3 separate regions of the Homo sapiens genome follow, and regions 1 and 2 are each linked to region 3. The links come from fine-mapping of genetic effects on gene expression. A gene starts in region 3. Each other region holds a variant in brackets. All regions are shown on one strand. Distances are between the middles of the regions.

What was found. PIP is the estimated chance that this variant, and not a neighbour inherited with it, causes the effect.
Region 1: its variant is fine-mapped to the expression of USP34 in unexposed skin (GTEx, PIP 0.99).
Region 2: its variant is fine-mapped to the expression of USP34 in lymphoblastoid cells (GEUVADIS, PIP 0.95).

Annotation. Positions count from the first base shown.
Region 1 is chr2:61,253,976-61,256,735 of GRCh38, reverse strand. USP34 (ubiquitin specific peptidase 34) reads left to right here. Exons shown (of 80, transcript NM_014709.4): 48 at 258-352. Among named protein-coding and RNA genes, the nearest start is that of C2orf74-AS1, 77 kb to the right of the region's middle. The variant C/T (reference allele first, on the strand shown) is at 1,610.
Region 2 is chr2:60,839,229-60,841,988 of GRCh38, reverse strand. No RefSeq gene overlaps it. Among named protein-coding and RNA genes, the nearest start is that of REL-DT, 41 kb to the left of the region's middle. RefSeq lists an enhancer at 501-920. The variant T/G (reference allele first, on the strand shown) is at 1,405.
Region 3 is chr2:61,469,859-61,472,618 of GRCh38, reverse strand. It overlaps USP34 (ubiquitin specific peptidase 34), which reads left to right and starts at 1,532. Exons shown (of 80, transcript NM_014709.4): 1 at 1,532-1,969. The coding sequence starts at 1,927. It overlaps USP34-DT (USP34 divergent transcript), which reads right to left and starts at 1,523. Exons shown (of 3, transcript NR_185882.1): 1 at 1,240-1,523. RefSeq lists silencers at 1,281-1,590, 1,621-1,700, 1,791-2,210.

The sequences.
Region 1 (2,760 bases), 220 kb after region 3:
AGAGTTAAACATCAACCATAAAGCTTTTTCTTGCCCAATCAAAATTTAAATTTTTAATTAACCCTTCAAAAAAGTTACTAAGATTCATAGAATATCTTAATATGAGGAAAAACAGTTTTTTACTAAAATTTAAGAATTCACTTTTAAAAAAAAAATTTTTTTGCTGAGCATTCTGTCAAAATTGTAATTGCCACCTTTTGTATATTTGCATGCTATAAACAATAATATGAAACTTTTAAATGTGGTTTTATACACAGGAATCTCTTGATGAAGTTACTATAAAAGACACTTTGGAAGGTGATAACATGTATACTTGTTCTCATTGTGGGAAGAAAGTACGAGCTGAAAAAAGGTATGCTTTTTCAAATGTGATTTTTATTATGTTCACCGTAGAAGTGAAAGACAAACTAAGGGTAAACTAAGATTAAACTTTGGTGGAAATTATATGATGAAGGTAAAATCAGCTGCATGGAGCTCAGTCTCATGGAGCAACTTTTCATCTAGTTGTTCAGTGAATTACCATTTATTTTGACATATACTGAGCTGTATGAAAGTGGTAATCACTCAACTTGAAACAGTATAGATTTTGGGGAGCAGATACATGGACGATAAGTACATTGATCATTTTCATCATTATCTGTATCGAGTCTCAGATGTCTAGCTTTTGTGACATTTTCTTAAGTAATACAGTGGAACCCCTTATCCTCGGGAAATGTTGCAAGACCCCACAATAGATGTCTGAAACCTCAGATTGTACTGAACCCTATATATACTGCTTTTTGCTGTGCATAACATACCTATGATAAAGTTTAAATTACAAATGAAGCTCAGTATTCTTGCCCTTTGGGGCCATTATTAAGTCAAATAAGGGTTACTTGAACAGAAGCATTGCAATACTATGACAGCCCATGTAATAAGAGAGCTACTAAGTGACCAATAAGTGGGTAGTGTCTGCAACACAGATAAGCTGGACAAAGGGATGATTCATATCCTAAGCAGGATGGTACAAGATTTTATCATGATACTCAGAACACCACACCACTTATGAATTGTTTATTTTTGGAATTTTCTGTAGTAGCTAACTAGGGACTTTTTGTACTAGCTAGCCTTTCCAAAGTATTTTTTATTTAGCAAGCACTGTTGTGAGAACTTTAATCCAGTTAATCCTCACAGCATTTCTTTGCAATAGATGCTGTTATTATCCCCATTTTACATGTGAAGACATGGAGTCACAGAATAAAGAAACTTTCCCAATGCTGATTCCTAAGATACAAATAAGCAAATTTCAGGGAGATAATCAAGTTGAATTTGAGTTCTCATTGGGGCATCCAGCTAGAAAGGTCCTGCAGGCAGTTGGCTGTTACAGTTAGAGCTTGGTGAGAGGTCTAGAATAGAGGTAGATTTGGGAGTTAGTAACTGTTGAGTTAGAGTGTTAAATAAGTGTTTATACTATAATACATTCAAGCTGGTTCCCTTCCAGTGTATTGTTGTTATCTTTGGATGTGTATATTTTGGTACATTGATCAAAAATATTCTTCCTCAGCTTTCATTTTCAGTAGAATTTCTTGGAAAATAATAATTTAGTGGTCTTCAAATAAAAATTGCCTTA[C/T]ACATACAGTGGGTCCCATCTGTAATCCCAGCACTTTGGGAGTTCAAGGATGTGCACTTGAGCCCAGGAGTTTGAGGGCAACATAGGGAAACACTGTTGCTAAAAAAGTTTTAGAAATTAGCCAGACGTGGCATGCACTTACAGTCTCAGCTGTTCGGGAGGCTGAATCGGGAGGATCACTTGAGGCTGGGAGGTAGCTTACAGTGAGCCATGATTGTGCCATTGCACTCCAGCCTCGGCAAAAAATTGAGAACCTATCTCAAAAAAGAAAAAAAAATGCTATACTTGTTCTACTAATGCGTGCCAAACATTATACAATTTTTTCCCTTTATTATTATTCTTTGATGATTCACATGTTCCCCAGGTTGGTCTTGAACTCTTGGGCTCAAACAATCCGCCCACCTCAGCCTCCAAAAATGCTGATATTACAGGCATGAAGCCACTGCACCTGGCCAAAAGGCTCTTAAGAGCCATAAAATGGCAAGTTTAGGACAGAGTAGTTGAGTAAACATTTTAATTTTATATTGAAAGACAAATAGAAATCGGATTGAAAAGAGCATCTTATGCAGTTAGTTACTAAGAACGAATGCAGAGAAATAGAAATGTCCTTGAATGTGCAAAAAATCTAGGATTAGGCCAGCCTGCATTTTTAAGTAGTGTATTCACATGGAACAGTAGTGGAAAACAAGATTGGTAACACGATGGCATCAGATTATTGCCATCCAAGTTTTAGGTTTATCTGTGTGATTGAATCTATCAGAATATCTGCCTGAGAAATAATGTAATTGTTGGAAAAGACTTAAGAGCTAAGCCAACCTAAAAGTACAGAGGACAAAGTGACAGAAGAGAGACAAGGAAAGAAAGAAAATTAGGATAAAATGGTAACCCCCAAACTGGGAGGAGAATCTCAAGAAGAAAATAATCAATTAATATAATTCACAGAGATGAAAGACAATGACAGCTGAATAAAAGCATTGGGTTTTTCCAGAAGGTAGTTTAGTGATGTGTTTTGTCAGGTTATAGGAATAGAAGCAACATTGTCGGGACACATGGAATCAAGCATAAATCATTGATTTTTAAAGTTTGGCAACAGGCCAGGCACGGTGGCACATGCCTGTAATCCCAGTACTTTGGGAGGCCAAGGCAGGTGG
Region 2 (2,760 bases), 630 kb after region 3:
TTTTGAGGTGGAATCTCACTCTCGTCCAGGCTGGAGTACAGTGGTGCCATCTCGGCTCACTGCAACCTCTGCGTCCTGGGTTCAATCAATTCTCCTGCCTCAGCCTCCTGAGTAGCTGGGATTACAGGCACATGCCACCATGTCCGTCTACTTTTTGTATTTTTAGTAGAGGTGGAGTTGCACCATGTTGGCCAGGCTGGTCTCAAGCTCCTGACCTCAGGTGATCCACCTCCCAAAGTGCTGGGATTACAGGCATGAGCCACCGCGCCCGGCCTGTTTTCACTTTTGTTTGTATTTTTTTGCTTCAGTAAAAAAGAGTTGAGAATAAGTAGAAAATAAGAAATATAGGCATCCTTCTGTATGTTGCAATGAAGGTCTTAATAGCAAAGAAACTGGCTTCTGGGACCAGCAGTATCAGCATCACCTGGGAACTTGTTAGAAATGCAAATTCTTGAGCCCACCCCAGACCTGCTAAATTAGAAACTCTGGGGGTAGGTCCAGCAATCTGCTTTAAGGAAACCTCAAGGTGACTCTGATGCATACTAAATTTGAAGACCACTGTTCTAAAGGATAGCACAAAACCAATTTGGCAAATGCTTAAGAGAGATCCAGTCTGGGAATAGATGTTTTGTTTTGTTCAATTTGGTCTCTGCCCCTTCCCTTCCTCAGCCAACCCGATTCATCTTGCTGCAATCAAACCTGTACCAGTGTTTCTCAACCCTGGCTGGGGAGCTCTTAAAAATGCCTGTGCCCAGGTGTCTCTCCAGGCCAATCTAATCACACCCTCTGTGGATGGGTCCCGGGCATCCAGGTGCTCCTGCTGTGCGCCAGGCTTGACAAATTCTGTTCTATATTCAGGTACTTTTGCGGTTGAAACAGATGATTGTTAACACCTGCCCTCAACTTCTTTCATTTATTTCCTGCAGACTCTGTGAAGCAGAACTCGGGCCTCTAGCGTCTGCTAGTCTAGATCTAAAGGTGTTTCCTGAGGGACAGTTTGGCCTGGCATGCAGGTACCTCTGCAGACCACAACAGTGCACCGAAAACACCCCCTCCCAGCACGCACACAAGTCTGGCTCCTCAGCCAAACATCAAACACCAACACTGCTGCCCATGCCAGATGCCAAGTGAGATAATGTGTGTTATACCCTTAGTGTGTTACAAAGAGAAAAGATTAATAAATGTTAGCTATCCTTATCTTCATTATCTAAATAAGGCATGTGGATCTCTTTTCATTTAAACTCACAAAATACCTGCTTAGAAGGCCTATCATGGTTGTTTCATCTTGAATTTTGTAACCATCAACTTTCATGTGAAGCCAGTGAGGGACCACTCACAGTCATGAGGGATGTTCTAAGCCAGCAGTTCTTAAAATGTGTATCACACGGGATCTTGTTAGAAATG[T/G]AAACTCTGGGCCCGGCACGGTGGCTCACGCCTGTAATCCCAGCACTTTGGGAGGCCGAGGCAGGCGGATCACGAGGTCAGGAGATTGAGACCATCCTGGCTAACACAGTGAAACCCCGTCTCTACTAAAAATACAAAAAATCAGCTGGGCGTGGTGGGCACCTGTAGTCCCAGCTACTCGGGAGGCTGAGGCAGGAGAATGGCGTGAACCCGGAAGGCGGAGCTTGCAGTGAGCCGAGATCACGCCACTGCACTCCAGCCTGGGTGACAGAGCAAGACTCCGTCTCAAAAAAAAGAAAAGAAAAGAAATGCAAACTCCGCTAGGCCTGGCGGCTTGTGCCTGTAATCCCAGTGCTTTAGGAGGCTAAGGTGGGAGAATTCTTCAGCTCAGGAGTTCAAGACCAGCCTGGGGAACATAGTGAGACCGCCCCCCACTGCCCCCACTCCACCACTTCCCTGCTCATAAATGAATGAGTAAAAAGAAATGCAAATTCTTTATTTTATTTATTGTTTTTGAGACAGGGTCTCACTCTGTTGCCCAGGCTGGAGTGCAGTAGCTCCATCTCGGCTCACTGCAGCCTCCATCTCCTGGGTTCAAGTGATTCTCCTGCCTCAGCCTCCCGAGTAGCTGGGATTACAGGCACCTGCCACCATGCCCAGCTGATTTTTGTATTTTTAGTAGAGGTGGGGTTTCACCATGTTGGCCAGGCTGATCTGGAACTCGTGGCCTCAAGCCATCCACCCGCCTCAGCCTCCCAAAGTGCTGGGACTACAGGTATGAGCCACCATGCCCAGCCAAGAAATGCAAATTCTTGAGGCCTACCTCAGTACTACTATATCAAAAACCCTGGAGGTGGTGCCCAGCCACCCATTTTCACAAGGCCCCCTGTGTTTCTGATGCATGCTCAGGTTTAAGAACTGCTGCTCTAAGCCTTCAGCCTCTCGAGCTTGTTGGAAATGCATGACCTCAGGCCCCACCCCAGATGACTGATTTAGAATCCCCAGGTCATTCAGATGCACATTAGAGCTTGAAAAGCACTGCTCTCGACTGTCCCCCACGGTCAGATTAGAATTAGAGCACCAGAAAGGGGTACTCTTAGATCAAAGCTTCTCGGCACCCCACAGAAATGCTGTCACAAGACAACAATTTAGGTGTAAGAAATCAACACATGAAAGACATTTCTGTATCTGTGAAAAAGAATTTTACTGCCATTCACCATCCCTGGATAAAGATTCTGTCAGCTTTCTTAGAGTTTAGAGCAAGCACGTGTGTCCTTTTTTAGAAAAGAAGGTGAAGTTATGAAACTCATGATACCTAAATTGCCAGGACACTTTCATTTTAGCTCAATTCTTTTT
Region 3 (2,760 bases):
TAAAAATAAAAAACAATTAGTTACGTGTGGTGGAGAGCGCCTGTAGCCCCAGCTACTAGGGAAGTGGGAGGATCCCTTGAGCCCATAAAGTGGAGGCTGTAGTGAACTGTGATCGCACCACTGCACTCTAACCTTGGCGACAGAGTGAGACTTTGTCTCAAAAAAAAAAAATTCAAATAAAAATAATTGGGGTTGTGTTGGCAGGGAAAAAAGGGATACGTGGGAATGTATGTTGAGTGGACAACGAATGTCTGCCTCAGGATCCAAAGTAAGTCTGCAAAAACCCAATTCTGTGAGAAAGACAAGGAAGAAGGGAAGATGATGGTAGAATAGAACTACAATCCTAAGGATCACCTGCTAGTGGGAAACAAAACGGGTTGGGCAGACTGTTTATAGTATCAACTTCAAGCAGCAGAAAGGCAAAGCATTTGGAACCAGGTGGTTCTGGCATGGAGAGATGGGCGTGCCATAACCTCCACAAAAGCTATCGAGAGAATGACTACAGAGCCTTGACAGACACTCTGGTTACCGTTCAGAGATTCTGTACACGATCTTTCGGACTTTGCAGTCACATGTCTATGTAAACACGTTGAACACAAAAATTAGCAAGCAAGGGGTAAGTGCCGGCGTGAGGAAAATTCCCTTACAAGCTTCAGCTGACTGCCCCCTTCACCTGTTCTTTATCTTAATATCCTTGTTATTCGCTCTCTGCTGAAGAAGATTTCTTGCTATTTCAGGTGGGGCTGATGGGCACATCGTGAGGGGCCCTCTTCCGTAAAAACGAGACGATGTCAGGCAAACACTCCTTACCCTGCCATTTCTAGTTACGTCAAGGATCTTACTGCTCCAGGACGGAGGACCTTCAAGGAACTGCAGGGTAGCGATAATCACCGATGCAGTTAAGCCGGGCCCTGGGCTGATTCACTCTCAGACCCCGGGGGGAGTGGCCCTTGCGCCCGAAAGAGGGCTACGGCGTAGACCCGGCCCGGCACCCAAGTTGACTCCTTGCTTCCCGTACCCCAAAAGCCTAAGCGCGGAAGAGGCCGGGGACACCAAAGAAACCCGCACCAACTCCCCGACCCAGGCCCTGGGGAAAAATGGCGAAGCCCAGGGGCGGGGGACAGGACGGAGCGAGTGACCTGGCGCTCCCCGGGCCTCAGAGCCCGTGGAGTGGGTCGTGGTGGGCGACGCCACGCAACCGCGACCCGTCCGTTGCCTCCGCCATCTTCTCCTACTCACCCGGACTCCCCCCGCGGCCGCGCTGGCTTCGCGTTTCCCTTCCGGCCGCTGACAGAGATCCGGGCTGGGCGGGGTGGGCGAGCGCGCGGAGGGGGTGGACCGAGGGCGGGGAGGCCGGACGGAAGAGGAAAGGGAGGGCGGCGAGCCGGCCACGGCGGGGTGTGGAGCGTGCGGCGTGTGTGCGGAGGGAGAGGTGGGGGGCGGAGGAGAGGCGAGAAAGGGAGGGAGGCGGAGGAATGAGAGCGCGAGGCGCCTCTCGTCCGCTCCTAAGCCCGGGCGGAAAGAGCCGAGCGCAGCCCGAGCGCTCTGTTAAAATGGCGGCGGCGTCGGCGGTGGCCGCGGCGTCTGGTCGGTGAAGTGACTCTGCTGCTTCTCTCCCCACCCGCCCCCTCCCCCCCTCTCCCCTCCCCCCGTCCTTCCCCCCCTTCCCCGCCGCCGGCGCCTCGGCGCCCCTCCGGCCTGCGCACCTCCCCTCGCTCCCCTCCTCTCCCCCTCCCGCTGCGGGGACCGCCGGCCCCCTCCCCCATTCTCTTGCTCCCCGCCCCGTCCCCGCCGCCGCCCGCCCTAGTCGCCTCCCCGCCCCGCCGGCCGGCCGGCCCCCTCCTCCGCCTCTCTCCCCTCCCCCCCGCCGGTCGGGATCAGTCAGTGTGATCCGAAGCGGGGGAGGGGGGGGGCGGCGGCCGAACGATGTGCGAGAACTGCGCAGACCTGGTGGAGGTGTTAAATGAAAGTAAGTAGCCGCGGTAGCGGCCTGTCGGGGTGCACGGTTTGGGGTCCTCGCGCAGCTCTCTGGCCTCCCCGGGCTGCCGCGGCCTGCGGGAGGCGACGGCCGGGCCGGGCGGCGTGCGGGCCTAGCGCCCCGGGAAGGTGCGCGGTGGCGCGGCCGCCGCGGCGCCTCGGGCCCAGCCCGGCCGGGTTACCTGGGCGCCCGAGAGGCGGCCGCCGCGGAGCTCCGGCTCGGCCTGGCCCGGGCGCTCTGGGCTCTCGGAAAGTTTCCTCATTACAGGTGTCAATTAATGAAGGCAGTAATGAACCCCTCGCCGCCTTCGCCTCCTTCGCCCTGCCGGGAAGGTGCGGGGAGGTGGGGTCGGAGGACGAGGCTTTCCTCCGCAGTCCAAATCCTCCGGCCGCCCTCTTTGATTTCCAGCGTGCTGCCGAGGCCTCTCTTACCTGCTAATTTTCATTAAACTCCCGGGAGCAGGGTGGTGGTTTTTCCCTCCCTTGCGGGTTTGTGGGTGTCTTAAACACTTCAGCCAGACCTTAAATAGCTGAAAACGAACTGTGATAGTGATGATTGGAACCTTCATACCTATTTTTAAAATAAATTTGTTAATGATGTTTCTTAGTGTAGCATTCACCGCTTTAATGGTACATTCTGTTAAGCAGAGCACTGTACTACACATACCATCCCGGGATAGTTATGGCCTATCTCTCTTGGAAGGAAAGGCCTTTTACCTGGTACTTTACTTTTTATTATTAAAAAGGGTACGTTGATCTTTTCTGGCCTTTTTATTTTATTCT